Homo sapiens: one gene and its partners. The protein of the gene in region 1 interacts with the protein of each later gene in a biochemical or structural test. Each region holds a gene or a part of one and is shown in the gene's direction. Other genes may lie near its edges. The genes, in order: CSN1S1, PARK7 and PRSS2.

What was found.
Region 2: of the proteins of CSN1S1 (region 1) and PARK7, one has a biochemical effect on the other in vitro, tested with the Homo sapiens proteins (one study listed by BioGRID).
Region 3: of the proteins of CSN1S1 (region 1) and PRSS2, one has a biochemical effect on the other in vitro, tested with the Homo sapiens proteins (one study listed by BioGRID).

What each region holds. Positions count from the first base shown.
Region 1 is NC_000004.12:69,926,659-69,934,067, forward strand, and holds the start of CSN1S1 (alpha-S1-casein isoform 1 precursor), read left to right. Parts: upstream 1-4,409; 5' UTR 4,410-4,459; intron 4,460-5,885; 5' UTR 5,886-5,897; coding exon 5,898-5,948; intron 5,949-7,409. UniProt on the Homo sapiens protein: Important role in the capacity of milk to transport calcium phosphate. Casoxin D acts as opioid antagonist and has vasorelaxing activity mediated by bradykinin B1 receptors.
Region 2 is NC_000001.11:7,957,237-7,964,780, forward strand, and holds the start of PARK7 (Parkinson disease protein 7), read left to right. Parts: upstream 1-4,474; 5' UTR 4,475-4,557; exon of another isoform or gene 4,558-4,845; intron 4,846-5,526; 5' UTR 5,527-5,549; coding exon 5,550-5,639; intron 5,640-7,544. UniProt on the Homo sapiens protein: Multifunctional protein with controversial molecular function which plays an important role in cell protection against oxidative stress and cell death acting as oxidative stress sensor and redox-sensitive chaperone and protease.
Region 3 is NC_000007.14:142,766,573-142,773,978, forward strand, and holds the start of PRSS2 (trypsin-2 isoform 2 preproprotein), read left to right. Parts: upstream 1-4,397; 5' UTR 4,398-4,410; coding exon 4,411-4,450; intron 4,451-5,476; coding exon 5,477-5,636; intron 5,637-5,989; coding exon of another isoform or gene 5,990-6,031; intron 6,032-6,693; coding exon 6,694-6,947; intron 6,948-7,346; coding exon 7,347-7,406. UniProt on the Homo sapiens protein: In the ileum, may be involved in defensin processing, including DEFA5.

The sequences.
Region 1 (7,409 bases):
TGACAGGCATGACGCACCATGCCTGGCCACATTACAGATTTTAAAAACCCTGGATTTTGAGTTCATGAAAATTTCCAGAGCTGTTATGTAAATTCACTAAGAGGTGGTTTGCCTTATGATGTAAATTAGACATTTGTCATTGTTTAATTGATCCCCTGTGATGTCAAGGCTTCTTATTATCAAATTCATCTAAGGGGCCTTGTCTGGTATGGCCCACAGTCTTAGTTGTCCTCAGGTACTCCATACTCCGGAGGCCCTGTTCAAATCTCTGTTTTTGGACTATTTGTAAAAATTAAAATTCTTTACTTTTTGTGTGTTAATTATCCATCACACTTTGAGGCTGGAAATTTTGTATTGCTCAAATTTTATGTCTGCAATACCTTGTCCAGCACTTTCATCTTTCTGAATAAATAAGTAAATAAATGAATAAACAAATGAGGATACAGATTCTTTTCATAAATTACAGAAGATTTTTATATAGCTTGATTTTTTTCTTTTTTTATTATTATACTTTAAGTTCTAGGGTACATGTGCACAATGTGCAGGTTTGTCACATATGTATACATGTGCCATGTTGGTGTGCTGCACCCATTAACTCATCATGTACATTAGGTACATCTCCTAATGCTATCCCTCCCTCCTCCCCCACCCCACGACAGGCCCCTGTGTGTGATGTTCCCCTTCCTGTGTCCAAGTGTTCTCATTGTTCAATTCTCACCTATGAGTGAGAACATGTGGTGTTTGGTTTTCTGTCCTTGCAATAGTTTGCTGAGAATGACGGTTTGCAGCTTCATCCATGTCCCTACAAAGGACATGAACTCATCCTTTTTTATGGCTGCATAGTATTCCATGGTGTATATGTGCCACATTTTCTTAATCCAGTCTATTATTGTTGGTCATTTGGGTTGGTTCCAAGTCTTTGTTATTGTGAATAGTGCCGCAATAAACACACGTGTGCATGTGTCTTTATAGCAGCATGATTTATAATCCTTTGGGTATATTCCCAGTAATGGGATGGCTGGGTCAAATGGTATTTCTAGTTCTAGATCCTTGAGGAATTGCCACACTGTCTTCCACAATGGTTGAACTAGTTTACAGTCCCACCAACAGTGTGAAAGTATTCCTATTTCTCCACATTCTCTCCAGCACCTGTTGTTTCCTGACTTTTTAATGATCACCATTCTAACTGGTGTGAGATGGTATCTCATTGTGGTTTTGATTTGCATTTCTCTGATGGCCAGTGATGATGAGCATTTTTTCATGTGTCTGTTGGCTGCATAAATGTCTTCTTTTGAGAAGTGTCTGTTCATATCCTTCACCCACTTTTTGATGGGGTTGTTTGTTTTTTTCTTGTAAATTTGTTTGAGTTCTTTGTAGATTCTGGATATTAGCCCTTTGTCAGATGAGTAGATTGCAAAAATTTTCTCCCATTCTGTAGGTTGCCTGTTCACTCTGATGGTAGTTTCTTTTGCTGTGCAGAGGCTCTTTAGTTTAATTAGATCCCATTTGTCAATTTTGGCTTTTGTTGCCATTGCTTTTGGTGTTTTAGACATGAAGTCCTTGCCCTTGCCCATGCCTATGTCCTGAATGGTATTGCCTAGGTTTTCTTCTAGGGTTCTTATGGTTTTAGGTCTAATATTTAAGTCTTTAATTCATCTTGAATTAATTTTTGTATAAAGTGTAAGGAAGGGATCCAGTTTCAGCTTTCTACACATGGCTAGCCAGTTTTCCCAGCACCATTTATTAAATAGGGAATCCTTTCCCCATTTCTTGCTTTTGTCAGGTTTGTCAAAGATCAGATGGTTGTAGATGTGTAGTGTTAATTCTGAGGGCTCTGTTCTGTTCCATTGGTCTATATCTCTGTTTTGGTTCCAGTACTATGCTGTTTTGGTTACTGTAGCCTTGTAGTATAGTTTGAAGTCAGGTCATATGATGCCTCCAGCTTTGTTCTTTTGGCTTAGGACTGACTTGGCAATGCGGGCTCCTTTTTGGTTCCATATGAACTTTAAAGTACTTTTTTTTCCAATTCTGTGAAGGAAGTCATTGGTAGCTTGATGGGGATGGCATTAAACCTGTAAATTACCTTGGGCATTATGGCCATTTTCACAATATTGATTCTTCCTATCCATGAGCATGGAATGTTCTTCCATTTGTTTGTGTCCTCTTTTATTTCATTGAGCAGTGGTTTGTAGTTCTCCTTGAAGAGGTCCTTCACATTCCTTGTAAGCTGGATTCCTAGGTATTTTATTCTCTTTGAAGCAATTGTGAATGGGAGTTCACTCGTGATTTGGCTGTTTGTCTGTTATTGGTATAAGAATGCTTGTGATTTTTGTACATTGATTTTGTATCCTGAGACTTTGCTGAAGTTGTATATCAGCTTAAGGAGATTTTGGGCTGAGATGATGGGATTTTCTAAATATACAATCATGTCATCTGCAAACAGGGACAATTTGACTTCCTCTTTTCCTAATTGAATGCCCTTTATTTCCTTCTCTTGCCTGATTGCCCAGGCCAGAACTTCCAACACTGTTGAATAGGAGTGGTGAGAGAGGGCATCCCTGTCTCGTGACAGTTTTCAAAGGGAGTGCTTCCAGTTTTTGTCCATTCGGTATGATACTGGCTGTGGGTTTGTCATAAATAGCCCTTATTATTTTGAGATATGTCTCATCAATCCCGAATTTATTGAGAGTTTTTAGCATGAAGGGCTATTGAATTTTGTCAAAGGCCTTTTCTGCATCTTTTGAGATAACCATGTGGTTTTTGTCCTTGGTTCTGTTTATATGCTGTATTACGTTTATTGATTTTTGTATGTTGAACCAGCCTTGCATCCCAGGGATGAAGCCCACTTGATCATGGTGGATAAGCTTTTTGATGTGCTGCTGGATTTGGTTTGCCAGTATTTTATTGAGGATTTTTGCATCGATGTTCATCAGGGATATTGGTCTAAAATTCTTTTTCTGTTGTGTCTCTGCCAGGCATTGATATCAGGATGATGATGGCCTCATAAAATGAGTTAGGGAGGATTTCCTCTTTTTCTATTGATTGGAATAGTTTCAGAAGGAATGGTACCAGCTCCTCCTTGTACCTCTGGTAGAATTCGGCTGTGAATCCATCTGGTCCTGGCCTTTTTTTTGGTTGGTAGGTATAGCTTGATTTTGAGTTAGGAGTAAAATAAATCAGTTTTCCTGGGTACACTTCTGGGAAAAGACAAAACCAAGGTACTGTAATACAGCTGATGCTTGTCTCAGCCTCTTAAATGAATCACAGTGAATAGGAAACACTAGTAAGTTGTTGAAATTTATGTGATGTAGTCAGTAAGGAAAACACTAACTAAAGAGAACTTTAATATGGAAAAGTACATCTCTTCTGATCCCCAATCTGAAATTAACCAGTCTGAAATGTGTGTTAACCCAGAATAATGCCCTTTTCATATGACTGTGAAAAGGCTGTAAATATCATTACTATTTTTTTATTTCCTAAAATATATAGTATGATTCTTTTCCTGTAAAAAAGCAAAGTCGCAGTCAACAACAATTTTTAAAAACCCTCTCTATTACAGATATTTTCCTCAGGATATAGTATTTTTCTACATTGTATAATGATAGTTAACATAAAGGAACAGAGTCTGGGATAGGAGAGAGGCATTTTCATTTCTTTCCTTTATTTACTTTTAAAAAACAGGAAATCAGAGGTATGGCATAATTTTCCAAAATCTTTTAAAATTAAAATTAATGAATAAATATTACTTCTAATTAGTCAATGTTATAATTTGTTAAATAAATACTATCACAACCAATATGCCTAAAAGAAAGCAAACAAAAAATTGTCTGCTGTAGCTTAAATATCACCAAAACACATAGGACAGTTGGATATCCTTCTTTGAAAAAAAGATCAGAGCATATACAGTATAAGTTAATCCATAAAGCAGATAGTCACAATAAATAATAGAGGACAAGCTGCATTTTAAAAGGTAAATAAATGATGAATTCTTTTAATGGCCTGGTACACTGATAGAAATTGGAACGTTTCTAAGACCCTATTTTGTCCCCAGGATTTCCATTATAGGAATTGAATTTTTCAAAAGATATACAGAGAATTTTATTAATATGTTCCTGTCAAATTATCCCTTCAACATAAAATCATGTTTTTATAATAGCCATAAATTTGGAAATTTTTGTATTTTAATTTGCAATAATGCCACTTTATTTCTTGTGTAATCTGTTATCATAGCATGAATCACTCCCTGTTGAAAATTCTCAGAATTTCCTGGGAAAGGAATTGGACAGAAAATTAGTTTCCTATTTGGGAGAATTCTTAGAATTTAAATAAACCTATTGGTTGAACTGAAACCACAAAATTAGCATTTTCTAATTACCACATTTAAATAGCGTAAAGCAAAGAGATCGGCCATCATCTTGGTCATCAACACAACTTGCTTCTCTCCAGACTTGGGCTTAAGGTACTGCGTTTACATACAGCAAAATTGCTATCATTTTACATTATCTAATCTCTTTCTTCCACTGTTTACTAAGTATATTTGTACCATTTCCATATGTTTGCAAATATTAAAACTTCTTATGATTTTCTGGCACCTTAAAAATCCTTTTGCAAATTCTGATACCATTTTACAGCTTTAGGTGATGAATCAATACAGTTTTATAAAAATACCAAATCATTTTTTGATAATTTTGTAACTAAAATATATTTTTAAAGTTGATACATAATTTCAGTAGAGGCTTGGGGTAAGCTAATTTAAATTATTTTTACCTAATTCTATGAGAAGTTGTTATGCAAATAATTTCTTATTTTTGTAATTACCATAGCAAAAACCATTTCTAGCAGAATAGTTCAAGGCCATTTTTGTTTCATGTCATTTGGGCAACAAAATTAACTCTACAATGTGAATATCTATTATAGATAATTAGCTATTGATGGCTACTTTGTAATGATTATTAAATTTAGATATTCAGAAAGACACAAATAGTAAATTTATTTGGGTTCAAAAATATGCCTTTTTTATTAACACATTTAGATTCTAAAATTTGTAGACTGAAGCAATATATATAAATGTCAGCATTTGTATGTTGATTAAGGTGTGAACAAATAGTATGTGTGACCTGATTTTTTTTCTAATGATTTCTCTGGAAACCATTTTCCCAGTACATGTGGATGTCCATATTTCGGGGTTCTTGCAATTTAATGAAACTCTGGAAATCAAATATAAGACATGTCAATATTTTGATTCTATCCAATTCAATCATCTTTATATATTTATGTCATGAATATTCCAATGTAGCAAAACACGAAGTTATGGCTAGATTCTTTATTTAAAAATTGAAAGAGATCAATAGCTTTTACATAACGTGCAGACAGGATTTTTCATGAAGACTCTAAAAGAAAAGAATGCTCTCAAATAGATTTAAAAGAGAAGCTCATTTTCAAAACTTTTCAATAAAATTAAATTCCAGTTCTCAGTGGATTTAACTTTATTGCCCACTTTAGAAAATCTGATTTGTCATCTAGGAGGAAAAGTGTTTTCTTTTTTCAATTGTATTTCAATATTAGCACTTCTTTATTTCTCTAAGCCATATTATTACATTAAGAACAAAATGTTATGTTTTAAAGTGTTAGTGAAGAAAAATGTTTGTAAGAAATTAGTATTTCTAAATAATATAAGAACTAAGAAAAATAACTAGAATGGTAAACATTGATATTGAGTAGTAAAGTTTTTAAAATCTTAAGTTTATAAAAATTCACATTACAGCTCCTCAAATCAGCCTACTTTTATCATAATTTGCTCCTTTGTTGAAAAATCAAGAATTTTTTTCAGGAAACAAATTTAACGTAATAATATCTAACTCTTTCTTTTTTGTTCTCTTACATAGGCTCTGATAACCATGAGGCTTCTCATTCTCACCTGTCTTGTGGCTGTTGCTCTTGCCAGGCCTGTAAGTTCAGTAGAGAATTTAGAAAGTCTTAGACTCTTGTTAGAAATGACCTGACACTTCATCAAACATAGGATACCCAGAGAAATAATCTTAAAGCACTGGATGATCTCTAATTGGCCTCTGAAGTCTTGACAATAGAAATGCAGTAATGCTTCACATTTTCATCATTATTGCATAGTCCACTGAGAGCCTTAACTCTGAATAAAATGTCTGACTTGAATTATAAGCACCCCACAATAAAAAAGAGCTAAAAATTTAAAAGTAAGAAAAAGAATAAGGTAATGCACAACATAATAAATAGCAACAAACAATGTGATTAGGCCTGTTCCTTGAGTCTACTACAAAATTCTCATATTTCTAAAAATGTAATAGTTGTCCAACATTTCTTTACCAAATATAACACAAAGCCACATGTTCCAATGTATCCTACTTTTGGAATCAAAATCAAACCCTTATTTGAGATGGCTTGTGTCAACTTTTCTTCCCCCAAGAAGGGATAGAAAACTAGGGTGATTCAGCTAATTGAGTGATCAATTTATTGTGGTCACTGTAGACAATGAAACTAGATAATGTGAATTAAAATTACCTTTCTTCTCAAAAAGAGTGTTTATATCAATTAGATAAGTATGTGAACCAAAAAGTTTTCTCTGTTCTCTCCTGTTATGTGTAGTTAATGAATGAGAAGAATAAACAGGAATCACCTGACTGGAAAAAACATCAGTTTAGAGGGATGATAAGGGATATTTGGACACTGAAATTATCTCATACAGAAGAAAAATTTCTGAAATGCAGATATAGCCTGTCATTTACACTGACAGACTTGTTCTCTAAATTCTCCTTTGGAAAGTGCAGAATCAGGAATTGTCAACTTCTGAACCAATAGTCTTTGTTTATGCTATAAACTAAGCATCAATAGAAAGAAATCTCTGCTTGCAAGTTACCAAAACAATGATAAAACTTCCTCAGGAATGAACTGTCTGAGCAGTTCTTATCTTGTCATTCTACCAGGAAGTGGGGAAAAGCAGCCCAGAAAATAGATGTTACACTTTTATTCCAAAGCAAACAATAGGGTTCTTTATTTGTTTATGTCACTGTTTAACGTGGTCTTGTCTCCACACTCAAAATGCAGAATGAGATCAATTTTCGTATAATTTAAGTGATGATAAAAATAAAACCCAGAAAGCGTTTGAATTAGGAAATTATATTTTGCCCAACATTTTTTATACTAGTTTAAAATCATCTTTAGAACTATGGTGTAATATATATAGTTCAGAAAACTAAATAAATTGTTTATTATTCTGGATTCAAACTAACCCAGAATTTTTACTTTTTTAAAGATGTTTTACATAGTTTTCTCAACTACCAGCCATAATCTAAAGAAAGGAAATGATTATTTTCCTTTGATATTTGTCTAAAAATAATTATGATTTCTTTTTTTTTCCCTGTAGTCCCAGAGAAACT
Region 2 (7,544 bases), on another chromosome or scaffold:
TGGTTTTCCTTCCATCTAACTGTATCCCTCCTTGGTTCTAGAAGCACACATCTGACCACTTGTCTTTCCTCTTTCTCTGTCATTCCTGTTTTCCACACTCCTTCACAGCTGCTTCCTTTGCAAATAGCCAAAAGTGAAGTCATTCCAGAACTCCTAAAAGTTTCTTCTTAAATGTCATATGATTAAAGACATTTCAGACTTTTGCACAAGTTCAGTGTTCATCAATTATTCACATTTTTTTTTTTTTTTTTTAGAGACACAGTCTCACTCTGTCATCCAGCCTGGAGTGCAGTGGCATGAGATCATGACCCACTGCAGCCTTGACCTCCTGGGCTCAAGTGATTCCCCCGCTGCGCTGTCAGCCTCTCAAGTAGCTGGGACCCATAGGCGTGTAATTTTTAAAATTTTTTGTAGAGACAGGGTCTTGCCATGTTGTCCAGGCTGGTCCCCAACTCCTGGGCTCAAACAATCCTCCCGCCTCGGCCTCCCAGAGTGTTGGGATGAGACACCCCGCACAGCTCCAATTTTTAAAATTAAATAAAATAACACACTCACCATCATTGTAAGAATCACATGAAATATACCAAAGTGCTTTGTAAACTAACAAAAAATTTATTTCTTGAAATAAATGTGGCCAGGTGCAGTGGCTCACAACTGTAATCCCAGCACTTTGGGAGGCCGAGGTGGGCAGATCACTTGAGGTCAGGAGTTTGAGACCAGTTTGGCCAACATGGTGAAACCCCGTCTCTAATAAAAATACAAAAATTAGTTGGGCATGATGGTGCACGCCTGTAGTCCCAGCTACTCGGGAGACTGAGGTACGAGAATTGCTTGAACCTGGGAGACAGAGGTTGCAGTGAGCCGAGATGGTGCCACTACACGCCAGCCTGGATGACAGAGCAAGACTCTGTCTCAAAACAAAAACAAAAACAAAACAAAGAAAATAAACGTGATTTTTTTTTTTTTTTTGAGACAAGAGTCTCGCTCTGTCACCCAGGCTGGAGTGTAGTGGTGCGATCTCAGCTCACTTCAGCCTCCGCCTCCCAGGTTCAAGCAATTCCCCTGCTTCAGCCTCCCGAGTAATTGGGACTACAGGTGCAAGCCACCATGCCCAGCTAATTTTTGTATTTTTAGTAGAGACCGGGTTTCACCATGTTGGCCAGGATGGTCTCGATCTCTTGACCTCGTGATCTGCCCACCTTGGCCTCCCAAAGTGCTGGGATTACAGGCACGCACCACCGCGCCTGGCCAGAAACGCGATTTTAATATCTAAATTGAAACCTTAAAAACACTGATGTATTTAGGCCAGGTGCTGTGGCTCACACCTGTAATCCCAGCACTGTGGGAGGCCGAGGTGGGCAGATCACTTGAGGTCAGGAGTTTGAGACTAGCCTGGCCAACATGGTGAAAGCTCATCTCTACTAAAAATACAAAAATTAGCCAGGCATGATGGCAGGTGCCTGCAATCCCAGCTACTCTAGAGGCTGAGGTGGGAGAATTGCTTGAACCTGGGAGGCGGAGGTTGCAATGAGCTGAGATTGCACCATTGCACTCCAGCCTGGGCAACAGAGCGAGACTCTGTCTCAAAAAAAAAAAAAAAAGAAAAGAAAAGAAATTACTAGAAGAAAACACTGGGGGGGGGGGGGCCAGGCACGGTGGCTCACACCTGTAATCCCAGCACTTTGGGAGGCTGAGGCAAGTGGATCACCTGAGGTTAGGAGTTCGAGACCAGCCTGGGAAACATGGTGAATCCCTGTCTGGACTAAAATACAAAAATTAGACAGGCATGATGGAGGGTGCCTGTAATCCCAGATACTCGGGAGGCTGAGACAGAGAATCGCTTGAACCCAGGAGACAGTGGTTGCAGTGAGCCAAGATTGCGCCACTGCACTCCAGCCTAGGCGGCTGAGCGAGACTCCATCTCAAAAAAAAAAAAAAAAGAAAAGAAAAGAAAGAAAACACTGGGGAAATGTTCCAGGGTATTGATCTGGGCAAAGACCTCAAAGCACAGACAACAAAAGCAAAAACAGACAAATGGAATTACATCAAACTAAAAAGTATATGCACAGCAAAGGAAACAACAAAGCAAAGAGACAACACACAGAATGGGAGAAAATATTTGCAAACTATCCATTTGATGAGGGACTAATGACTAGAATATATTAGGAGCTCAATAGCAAGAAAACAATCAGATTTAAAAGTGGGCAAAAGATCTGAATAGACATTTCTGAAGAGATACAAATGGCCAAGAGATATGAAAAAGGGCTCAATGTCACTAATCAGAGAAATGCAAATAAAGACAGTAAGATATCATCTCATCCCAGTTAAAATGGCCTTTATCAAAAAGGGAATAACATGCTGAGATGGATGTGAAGAAGGAACCTCATACACTGTTGGCGAGCATCTCAATTAGTGCAGCCACTATGGAAAACAATATGGAATCCTCAGAAGATTAACTTCTGAGAAATCATAAGTTCTGGAATCATAACTACCATATGATCCAGCAATCCCACTACCGGTATATACCAAAAAGAAAGGAAGGGCCAGGCACGGTAGCTCACGCCTATAATCCCAGCACTTTGGGAGGCCGAGGCAGGCAGATCACTTGGGGTCAGGAGTTCAAGACCAGCCTGGCCAACATAGTAAAACCCTGTCTCTACTAAAAATACAAAAATTAGCCAGGCATGGTGGCACACACCTGTAGTCTCAGCTACTCGAAAGACTGAGGCACGAGAATTGTTTCAACACAGAGGCAGAGGTTGCAGTGAGCCAAGATGGTGCCACTGCACTTCAGGCTAGGCGACAGAGCAAGATGGAGTCTCAAAAAAAAAAAAAAAGAAAGAAAATCAATATATCAAAGAGATATTTGCACTCCTATGCTTATTGTAGCACTGTTCACAACAGTCAAAATATGGAATCAACCAAAATGTTCATCAATGGATGACTGGATAAATAAAATGTAAATATACACAATGAATACTATTCAGCCATAAAAAATAATAAAATCCTATTTGCAACAACATTGATGGAACTGGAGGTCATTATGTTAAGTGAAACAAGCCAGGCAAAGAAAGACAAGCATCACATGATTTCACTCATAAATGGGAAGTTGAAAAGTGGATATCATGAAGATAAGTTGGTGGTTACCAGAGGCCAGGAAGGGTAGCCAGGAGAAGGGGATGAACAGGGTGATTAATAGGTACAAAAATTGGTAGAAGTGCTGGGCAAGGTGTCAAGAGCCCCAGCATCAGAAAGTGGTCGACTTGCTGGTTGGTAAGAAGAATTTATCGACAACAATATAGGTTTGAAAAAGGAAAGTTTTATTAGAACGCTGCAGAAGAGTGCAGCCTCAGCAAGAGAGAACTGAGCATGCCGCGGTGGATTTTTCATGTCCCTTTTCGAATGTCTCATTTTTTGCAAATTCAATCCAAGTTGCGTTCATTTAGCCAGGATCCTTCTAAGCTCATTCAAGAATTTTGGGCTTTAACTATTTCCTTTGATTTAACCTGGTACCAGGTGCCAACTTTAGATAATAGGGATATCTAATTACTTCTAAATTCCTCAGATAAGGGGCCTGCTTGATGGTCACCAGGTGATCTGTGCTCTCCTTAAGAGGGAATAAGACCTAGCGTTGGCAGAGTTCTGTAGGGTGACTATAGTTAACAGTAATCTGTTGTATATTTTAAAATGTTATTATTGAAGAGAGTAACTGGAATGTTCCCAGTATAAAGACAAATGTTTAAGGTGATAGAGATCTCATTTACCCTGATTTAATCATTACACATTATATGAAAGTATCAAAATACCACATGTACCCAGAAAACACATACGTCTCTTACATATCAATAAATACAACTTGAGATTATGATGTAAATACATCTGACCAACTTGGTACTTATTAGACTTATGTGCGCAGCACTGCTCTAGTCCTGTGGGTGCAGCAGCATCAGGATCGTTAAAGAAAACAAACAATGCTGAGAAAAAAACTCACACCCCTGAGACATCCGGGTGTGAATAAATGCGGCAGAGTCGCCCGAGATCGGGAGACCAGGCGTGGGGGAGAGGTCCGGGAGGCCTGGACCAGAGTCCTAACAGACCAGAGGCGAAACGGGAAGGCGCGCCAGAAAAGGAACAACGCAAAGGGAGCAGGCGTGCACGGAGCGCGAACTAAGGAACCCCTCTGACAACCCCAGTCCCTCGGCAGTTCCAGAGACCGGCTCCTCACGGAGGGTGGCGGTAGAGACTGTTAAGCCCCGCGGGCGCCGGGGCAGGCCGGACTGTGCCATTCGTGGGGGGTACCATGTGGGACCGAGCCGCCTCACCCAGGGCTGTCCAGCTAGAAACTCCCCGGTGCCACCCCCGCCTCAGTCCGAGGTAGACTCGGCCGGACGTGACGCAGCGTGAGGCCAAGGCGGCGTGAGTCTGCGCAGTGTGGGGCTGAGGGAGGCCGGACGGCGCGCGTGCGTGCTGGCGTGCGTTCATTTTCAGCCTGGTGTGGGGTGAGTGGTACCCAACGGGCCGGGGCGCCGCGTCCGCAGGAAGAGGCGCGGGGTGCAGGTCAGCGCCAGCGGGGGCGCGGCGCATGTGTGGGCCGTGGCGCTGGGCGGCGTGGGGGTGCTGGACGGTGTCCCTGTGCTGGACGGTGTCCCGCTGGCTCAGAACCGGCGCGGGGCCTGGGTCGGGGCCGCCCTCGCTTCCGGCCTCCCAGTCGGGCCCTGTCGCTGGCGTTGGATTTGACTGACCGCCAGCGTGGTGGCAACGCTGAAGCGTCCAGAATCTTCTGCCTAACCTCTCGCCGGCATGGAACTGGCTAGCCGTTTTATTAAACTCTGTTTTGCGTGGACGGTAAACCCTCCAGATAATCTGTAAATAGGCTAAAAAAAATTCGGAACCTCGTTGAGCTGCTGTCGTTGGCAGTGAGAACTCCGCGCAGAGAGACAGATGTAGTTGGGTTGACTTCAGTGAGGGGATTTCCATCTTTCTCAGTCATTAAAAAAAGTGTTCAGACATTTAACACTGTTGACCCCCACACACAATTTTTTAGTACAGTTATAACTAAGAAAACAAAAATCCCCTCCAAAAAATTACAAGTTAATTGCGAAAGACCACATTTAAATTTTTGCCCATGAAATTCAGTTTAGTCGTTTCTCTGAAACAGTGCTTCAAAAAAGACTGTTTCCCCGCATTGTGTGAAATGCAGGAGACCCACGTACTTGTATTTTTAAAAAACCCATTTGCAACATACTATTAAAGTTGGATTTAAGAGAACATGGTAGAAGAAAATCTAAGCAATACTACACCTTTTAGCACCCTCATTATGTTTTCATCTCAGAGCAATTAAAACTGCTATACAAATCAACGTTAAGATAACTAAACTGCTGCTTTTTTCGTATTCAGTTGTCTATGAAAACCGTTTCCCTAGGAAGTACTTACTCTGCTTGAAAATGCTCCTAAACTTTAAATTTTGGGGTATCTCAGGGTTGCAATGAAAGTTTTTTGAAATCTTTTTTTTTTTTTTTTTTTAAGGCTTGTAAACATATAACATAAAAATGGCTTCCAAAAGAGCTCTGGTCATCCTGGCTAAAGGAGCAGAGGAAATGGAGACGGTCATCCCTGTAGATGTCATGAGGCGAGCTGGGGTAAGTCCCACATCGATTTTTAGCCATTCCTGTTTTAAATGTTTTTGGATTTTTAAATCATTTTGAATAAAATATTCAAAGTGCTCTATGAAATATTTCAAATATACACAAAATTTCAGAGATGACATAAGAATAAATACCTGTTGATCCACTGCTCACATTTAACGCTTGTTAATGTCTTGCCATATTTCCTTCAGACCCATTTCTCTTTTGTTTTGAGCTCTGTCGTCCAGGCTGGAGTGCGATGGCAGGATCTTGGCTCATTTCGGTCTCTGCCTCCTGGGCCCAAACCATCTTCCCACCTCAGCCTCCCAAATAGCTGAGACTACAGATGCGTGCCACCACACCTGGCTAATTTTTGTATGTTTTGTAGAGACAGGGTTTTGCCATGTTGCCCAGGCTGCTCTCCAACTCCTGAGCTCAAGTTGTCCACCCGCCTCAGGCCTCCCAAAGTGTTAGGACTACAGGCGTGAGCCACTGCACTGTCCTTAGACCCATTTCTTTTTTCTTCTTTTTTTTTTTTTTTGAGATGGTGTCTCTCTGTGTCGCTCAGCCTGGAACGCAGTGGTGTGATCTCTGCTCGCTGCAACCTCTGCCTCCCGGGTTCAAGAGATTCTCCTGCCTCACCCTCAGCTGGGATTACAGGTGTCCGCCACCACGCCCGGCTAATTGTATTTTTAGTACAGATGGGGTTTCACCATGTTGGCCAGGTTGGTCTCGAACTCCTGGCTTCAAGTGACCCGCCCGCCTTAGCCTTTTACAGTGCTGGGATTACAGGCAGGAGCCACCATGCCCGGCCCCTCAGACTCGTTTCTTAAAGAGCAGATGCTTCAAAGAAATACATTTGAAGCCCCCTTTGTAAATTTCTCCAATCCTATGCCCCTTCTTCCTTCCTTAAAGATAAGTGCTATCCTCGCACTCTTGTGTATCCATGCATGTGTGTCTTTTTTTTTTTTTTTAAGACAGAGTCTTGCTCTGTCACCCAGGCTGGAGTGCAGTGGTGTGACCTCAGCTCACTGCAACTTCTGCCTCCTGGGTTCAAGCAGTTCTCTGCCTCAGCCTCCCAAGTAGCTGGGATTACAGGTGCGCACCACCATGCCTGGCTAATTTTTTGTATTTTTAGTAGATGGGGTTTCACCATCTTGGCCAGGCTGGTCTTGAACTCTTGACCTCGTGATCCACCCACCTCGGCCTCCCAAAGTGCTGTGATTACAGATGTGAGCTACTGCACCCGCCCCCACGCATGTCTTTAAGGTAGCATTTGACCGTGGTTCTCATTTTGCGTGTTTATATATTATCTCTCTCTATCTAAAAATAGTGAACAGTGAAGTGAAGTAGAACTAACTCTGTGCCAGGCAGCATTCTAAGTGCCGATAAACCTTACAACAATGTCGTGAGTTAGATATCACCATCCTCATTTTACAGTTGAAGAAACTGAGGCACAGAGACATAAATAATGTACCCACATCACGTAGTAAGTACAAAAGCCAGAACTCAGACCCAGGCAGCCTGGCCCCAGAGTCTGTTAACCCTATACTCCTCTGGTTCTCAGAAATGAAGATACATGTCGATTAAGTTTATCCACTTAAAATTGCTGCTTGGTGTTGCACTGAATGCCACAATCTACCCATTCCTCTAATTACAGCATTACAATTCTGTAATACGTATTCTTGTGTAGGTTTCTTTGTGCAAATGTGAGGAAATTTTTCCAGGTTATATATCTAAAAGTAGAATGACTAGGCCGAAGGATAGCCTGTAGTCAGCATGACTAGGTTTTGCCAAGTTGCTCTCCAGTGTCCCAGTTTGTAGTCCCACCAGCAGTGTAGGAAAATTCCCACTTTCCCAGTGCCAGCTCTTGGTATTGTTGACTTTAAAAATTTTTGAAAGATAAAGCAGTATTTCGTT
Region 3 (7,406 bases), on another chromosome or scaffold:
TCAAATTTTATTTTAGATTCATGGGGTACATGTGCAGGTTTGTTACATGGGTATACTGTGTGATGCTGAGGTTTGGGGCACAAATGATCTCCTCACTCAGGAACTGAGCACAGTACCCAATAGGTATTTTTTCAGCCCTTTCCACACTCCTTCTCTCTTCCCTCTAGTAGTTGCAGTGTCTACTCTTCCCATCTTTACATCCATTTTTACCCAATGCTCAGCTCCGACTTATACATGAGAACGTGATATTTGGTTTTCTGTTCCCATGTTAATTTGCTTAGGATTATGGTCTCCAGCTCCATCCATGTTGCTGCAAAGGACATGATTTCATTCTTTTCATGGCTGCATAGTATTCCATGGTGTATATGTACCACATTTTCTTTATCCAGTCTACCGCTGATGGCCACCTAGGTTGATTCCATGGCTTTGCTACTGTGAATAGTGCTGTGATGGACATGCAAGAGCATGAGTCTTTTTGGCAGAACAATTACTTTCCTTTAGGTAAATGCCCAATAAAGCAAGTGCTGGGTGGAAAGATAGTTCTGTTTTAAATTGTTTCAGAAATCTCCAAACGGTTTTCTACATTAATTTTTCCATGAACTGATTTACACTCTGGCCAACAGTGTACAAGCATTCCCTTTCCACTGCAGCCTCATGAGCATCTTCTATTCTGTGGACATTTTAATAATAACCACACTGCAGCCAAGCTCTTTCAAGCCCAATGTGGGGAACAGCCACAAACATCCCTTTTCCCAACGAGAATTCTTGCCTGCCCACTGGTAGAATTCTTGTTTTCAGCTGTCTTTCATTGTTTGCTTTTCAAAGAAAAACCAAAGGTAAAGTGGTATGATCTTCCACACGTGAACCAGTTTGTAGCCACCAGAGCCTGCTGGGAAGGGGCCCCTCACGCATGCATTGATCTTGTCATGTGGAATTTGAGAGATCTAGAAGCCCCACAGCAACCTACCATACAACTGCCTATCAGCGCTCATCCTTTCACAGGATTAGCTCAATTCTGGCTCTGCAGACACTGGCAGCCACGGGTGAGAAACCCTGGGCCTCTGTGGGCTTCCTTCATCACCCAGGGCCACAGTGGGCTGCCTGTCCTAGGCAGAGACACAGCAACATTCTCTTAAGCTGAAATTAAGCATAAACCCACTTCACCAATAATCATCTGAGGGCACAGTCCCTGCCTCCTTCCTTGGGGATTTTAAAACACACATCTCTCTGACCAAACAGGTAGGTGAGATCTGACTTTAAAGGGGGGAAAGTGGGATGAATTGGGGTATCAGGAATGAATCCCAAGTGTTTTTGTGTGGCGAATGGCATCCACATCCCAAAATATACTTGGAGATGGGGAAAAAAGCAGGAGAGGAGAAGGGTAAAAAAGGAGGACAAAGTGTCTGAAAGTCATTGAAAGCTTCTCTCATGGTTCTTTCTGGCTCTGGTTGCTTTGCCAAGGTCTTGAGTGCAGGCAGGGCTGGCTCTGGCTGGGAGCTGCTGCTCTGGAACATGGAAGAGTCACTTCACCTTCAGAAAGCTCATTTGCTCATCTGTAAAGTGGGCAATTCCATAGGTGGTTGTGATGATAAAATGAAAAAAAAGTTCTTAACTTATATGAGTGACATGCTGTATAGTAAGTTACATGCTATATAGGAAGCACACAGAAATGATTCACTGTTATGATAATGGAAGGACAGTGGTTTGGCATGTTAAGCACTAAACACAAGCCAGAAAGATATCTTAGAGAAGTAGACAAAGAAATCTATAGTTCAGAATGAACAGTACCAAGAATGACATGTCCCCCAAATTGAGCATGGGTAGCTGGATCTGAACCTATCCTACACATCTGAGTCTACAGTATGAGGTAACAGTCTTCACCTATAGCTATCTCCTCTGCCTGTAAGGTCATTCCTTTTTGAAGAAAGCTGACCTCAGACTATACTGTGATCGCTTAAGGAAGAGCACAAAATACTGGAGAAGGCTAGTCTTCAAGCTCTAGATACAGAAAATCCTCAATTCTTGGGTGTTACCTTTCAGAAAAAGAGTCAGAGCTACAAGCCCTGATCCAAAAATCCCTTTTTCCAAAAAAATTCTCCATCTTCTACCAAGGTTCACCTCCCTGTTTAGTGCACACTGGTGTCTATAGTTGCTAGAGCAAGAGTCTCTCCTTATCCTCTAAGGCAGGAGTTCTGTGAAGACCCCATGACAAGGGGACAAAATGAAATAACATGTTCAGCGACAACACAGCAAAACCCCATATTATCAATGCTCTAAAACCTAGCTACCTCAGGCTTGGCCAGTTATTCATGAGCAGAGAGGTGTGTCATCTACATGGCAGTCATGGCCTGGATGGGTCTGGAACTGTGGCAAGGTAAGGCTCTGAGAAAAGGTGCCAGGAGAAAGATGAATTCAATCATCTATTTCTGCCAGGAAGAAAAGCACCAGGAAGGAATCAGATGTACAGTTTGTCCTCTGGGGACCTCTGCCTTGATCCTCAATAAATCTCCTTTTAGATGCCACGTGCAGCAATTCCCACACTTCACAATGCTCTCCATGGCTTCTGTTGGCCTTATGGTCAGCTCTGCCAAGATCTGTATTCTTGGGCAAGACAGAATCCTTCTGAATCTCAGTCTCTTCCTCTATAAATGGAAATAATTTTGCTCCACACAAGTCACCATTAGCACGTTGGTGGGAAGTTAAACTGCGAAACTCAGCATAAACAAAGAGCAATGTACCACTGTTGCTTACGTGAAAACTCCCGTGAAGCAGTCAGGCACCATGCACCATCTAAGCATAGCAGCGTTAGGTATCAGCCTATTAGTGATTAGAGAGGGTACCGGGGAGAGAGGGGGCCTCAGAGCAGTGGGTCTCCTGGCTGTGGGGAAGCTGCCTCAGTGGCCATGCCAGGAGCTGAACCTGAAGGTACTCTGTGTGTCCTCTCAACACCATGGACCCTATTTTGGTATTTTTTTCCAGTTACCTCTGGTTTCCATTTGCTTCCTCCCTCTAGCCCCCTGGCCATGTCCGATTTCTCCAGCAAGTTTCTGAGCTTTTCTCATTTTGCTCACTGTCTCCAGAACATCCCTGCTTCTTTTACCTTTCAAAGAATTCAAACTTGAACTCTGCTCACTCCTGCCCATCACCAACATTAGCTCAGAGTTGATGAGAAGGGAAAGCACCCTCATAAGGAAGCCCCTCCTTTCCTTACATTATTAGACCTGAGCGCAGACAGCATCTCCATCTCCACACTGCTCTGGCCAGGTTATGCCTCAGTCAATTACACGACTGTATCTTAGTACCCTTGGTAGGGCTCAAATCAGGATATTCTCTAGAAAGATTCACTTAGTACTGAGCCAAGTATAATCTCACTACATCTAAAATAGAAAATTCTAGACCCACCCCTCCACATCTTTGTTATTGAACCCAATATGTCACCCATTTACCATGTGCTCAAATCCCTACCTACTGCTGATTCTCAGATCAAATCATAACCCAGATTTACCATGGTCCAAACTCTGACATGTGATCAGGGGCATGTCATTCTGGTTCAGGCTGTCAGCCCCAAGCAGGTGGGTCAGTTTCAATCACCCTGAGTGCAGGTTGCAAGGGCAACCATGAGGCTGCATAAAAAGAACCTATGACAGGATGCACATGAGAGACAAATGTCTTCACATTGAAGAAGGGGAGGAGTGCGCCATTGGTTTTCCATCCTCCAGATGCACTGAGTAAGCTCCTACCTAACCTGTGCCCCCTCCTTCTTCTCATCCCTATGCCGTGGTAGGAGGGAGAGCCATCTTCAAGCCCAGCATCCTATGGAATGCTGAGTCTCTCTTCTCCTTACCCCTTAATGTTGGAATTCTCATTCCCCAAAGCCTTGGATTTGACTTTCCCACTGAGTGACTGGAGAGAAGCATCTTCATATTCACAGGAACAAGCCTTAGTTAGATAAGACTTTGCCCCTCTCCTGGGAGCTCCAGGACACTAAAAAGCCAAGCTTGCTACCAACACTTGCCCTTCCTTAAGTACATTAAATATAACCCCAATAGTAAAATATATTCCTAAACAGCCAGGCCATTCTCCCTCCTTCTAACCCTCATCTCCTCGGCCTAAGAAAGCCCAGCTGTGTGATCTGGGGCTTGGCTTCCCCTGTCTTTCCCATATCAGCATCCTTCCAGGAAACAGCCGGTCTCCCTCTCTGCTCTCAGAAGGCAAGTTTCCTTATCACCTGTGAATCACAAACCCACAGAGTGGCCAAACATACTGATGCAAGACCATAGGAAGGGGAAAGCTGCAGGTGTGTTTGTGCTGGGAGGAGCAGTGACCCTCACCTCACAGACACCTCCTCTCCCCATCCTCGGGAGGTATAAAGACGGGTTCTCCACCAGCAATCAGGCACACTCTACCACCATGAATCTACTTCTGATCCTTACCTTTGTTGCAGCTGCTGGTGAGTTTCACGCCCTGCCTCAGGCCTCAACCAACCCTTCCCTGGCAGACACATGCCCTGCCATTCTTGCCACCTCTCCTCTTTTGACTGTGCTGTGATATTCTATTTCCTCCATCTGGCATTTCTTCTTCCCATCCTCCTTGGGCTCTTTTTAAGCCTCACTTGTTCCACCTTCTCCTTGATTTCACTCCCACCGCTGTTATTCATCCATATCCGAGCTGTGGTTGGAGAAGCTGGGAAGGGAGACCAGGTGGGGCTGGCCCATGAAATGAAGCAGTAGGCTTCAGGCTTGGCTCTGACAGCACCACAATAGCACCACTATAGCTGCTCTTAACCTCGAATGCACCTGGGGAGGTTGAAATTACTCATGCAAGACACTCAACTCTAGAAATTCTCACTTCAATTGTCTGGTGTGCAGCCTGTGTTCTGGGCTTTTAAGCTTCCCAGGTGATTTTTAACATTTCTAGGCATGCAGCCAAGGTTAAGAATTGCTGTTGTTTTGACCAATAATAACGTATACCTTTGTTCTGCAAAAGTGAGCCTGGGGCTTCCCTCAACTCTGCCCTCACTGGGCAGATTTGAGCTGAGGGGGAAACTGGTCATGGCCAAGTCGATGTCGCCAGGGGGTTTTCCTAGCTTGGCCAAAGTAGCCAGACAATCCGGGGCTTAAATAACCAGGTGGAGTACACAGGTGGTGAATAAAAGAGAGAAGACTTCAGTGCTTGAGACAGCCACATCCCAAATCCTATCCCACTGGAAGTATTGTGAGGATATTCCTTGCGTCCTCAGCCTGGTGACCCCAGGAGAGATCTGAACCCCCACAGGGTACCTAGCTACGTGCCCTGCAGACACAGAGACTTGGGAGCCACATCCAGTGATGATCACCAGGGCTGGCAGCGCTCCCCCCCTTGCCTAGCCTCACTGAGCTTGTTAAGGTTTTCTAATTAGCAGGAAGCAGCCACAGGCTGGGAGCGCCACCCCTAACATGCTACTGACTTGCCTTCTCCCTTCCCATCTCCACTCCAGTTGCTGCCCCCTTTGATGATGATGACAAGATCGTTGGGGGCTACATCTGTGAGGAGAATTCTGTCCCCTACCAGGTGTCCTTGAATTCTGGCTACCACTTCTGCGGTGGCTCCCTCATCAGCGAACAGTGGGTGGTGTCAGCAGGTCACTGCTACAAGTCGTAAGTGTGGGGCCCCTGACTGCAAAACTCCCAGCCAGGCTGCCTGGGAGAGCTTGGATTCAGCCCAGGGAAGTACTGAGGTTGGGTAGGACGGACGAGAGAGATGGTGGAAAAGAAAACTTGTTGGCAGCAGCTGACTCTCCAGAGCAGAGAGTGAACACAAGACAGGAAGCCCTCACACCCAGGCAAATCCATGAAACAGCAAGGGTTGTGGTCATAAAAGCAGGCAGGGATGATCTTGGGGTGGTGAGAGCTAGTGAGAAGAGCAGGCTAGTACTTTTGCTGGTTAGCTACACATTAAAGCCACCTAAGAATGAGTACTTAAAAATACTGATCCCTGTGTTCTATCCCAGGGCAATTAACTCAAAATTATCAGGAAGAGGGTGTGAATATCAGTGAGTATTTCACACTCTACCTCTGGTAACTGTAGAGTGTATAGACAGAGCTGAGAACTGCTGCCTACACCAAGAACTCTTAAACCTGAGTATGCATCAGAACTCCCTGCAGGCTTGTTAAGGCACAAATCACTGGGACCCATCCCCAAGGTTCTGATCAGTAGGTGGGGGTAAGGACCAAGAACTTACATTTCTAACAAATTCCCAGGAGATGCTAATGCTATGGCTACCCTTGGATTAGATTACACAGAAGGGTGGTGCTCACCAGGCCAAGAATGGAGGGAGGAGCAGGCACTGTGCACAGTTAGCAAAGGCCTGGAGTGAAGAATGTTGGGAAAACTTCAAGGAGCTCCTTGTGCCCACAGTGCTAGTGACATGGAGATTATGGGAAAGAGTCTGGGAAGGCAGATTGAGGAGCAGCCTCTGGTGGGATCCCTTTGACTCTTCCCCACTCCACTACCACCAACCTCTGAAGCAGAAAGGTCCTGGGTTTCACACCTGCACTGACCCACATTGCTCTCCTGCCCATGCAATATGGCCACACACCCCACCCCATGCCTCCAGAGCTGTCCATGAGCAGGGAGCTTAAGGACCCATGGAAAGGTGGGAGGGGTGCCCTGGCTGTGGGAGAAGGTCTTCACCATGCCTGCCCTGCCCATCAGCCGCATCCAGGTGAGACTGGGAGAGCACAACATCGAAGTCCTGGAGGGGAATGAACAGTTCATCAATGCGGCCAAGATCATCCGCCACCCCAAATACAACAGCCGGACTCTGGACAATGACATCCTGCTGATCAAGCTCTCCTCACCTGCCGTCATCAATTCCCGCGTGTCCGCCATCTCTCTGCCCACTGCCCCTCCAGCTGCTGGCACCGAGTCCCTCATCTCCGGCTGGGGCAACACTCTGAGTTCTGGTGGTGAGTGGGACCCTTTGTCCTTCTACTTCCCTCCATCCCACAATTTCCAGAACAAACCATGCCCCTTAACTTAAATCCTCTCGCCTCCAGGCTTAAGACACATTTCTAGTGCCCATTACACACAGGCTCTGCACTGGGCACCAGAGAGATGCAAATTCTCAAGGATGTGGCTCCTAAAATCAAAAGACAGGACAAATGGAGAACTTGCTATGATCACTTCGTGGGAGAGGTTCAACAATGATCATTCTGGGAACTAAAAGCCAGAGTCCCTTGCCAGGACTTATGTTTTGGAGTCCTCTCCAGGGGCAGTGTTCCTCTTCAATGTTCCATCCTAGACTATTGTCTCTTTCTCTGGCCTAACCCACATTTCTTTCTTTGTTCTCTTCCTGATCCTCACAGCCGACTACCCAGACGAGCTGCAGTGCCTGGATGCTCCTGTGCTGAGCCAGGCTGAGTGTG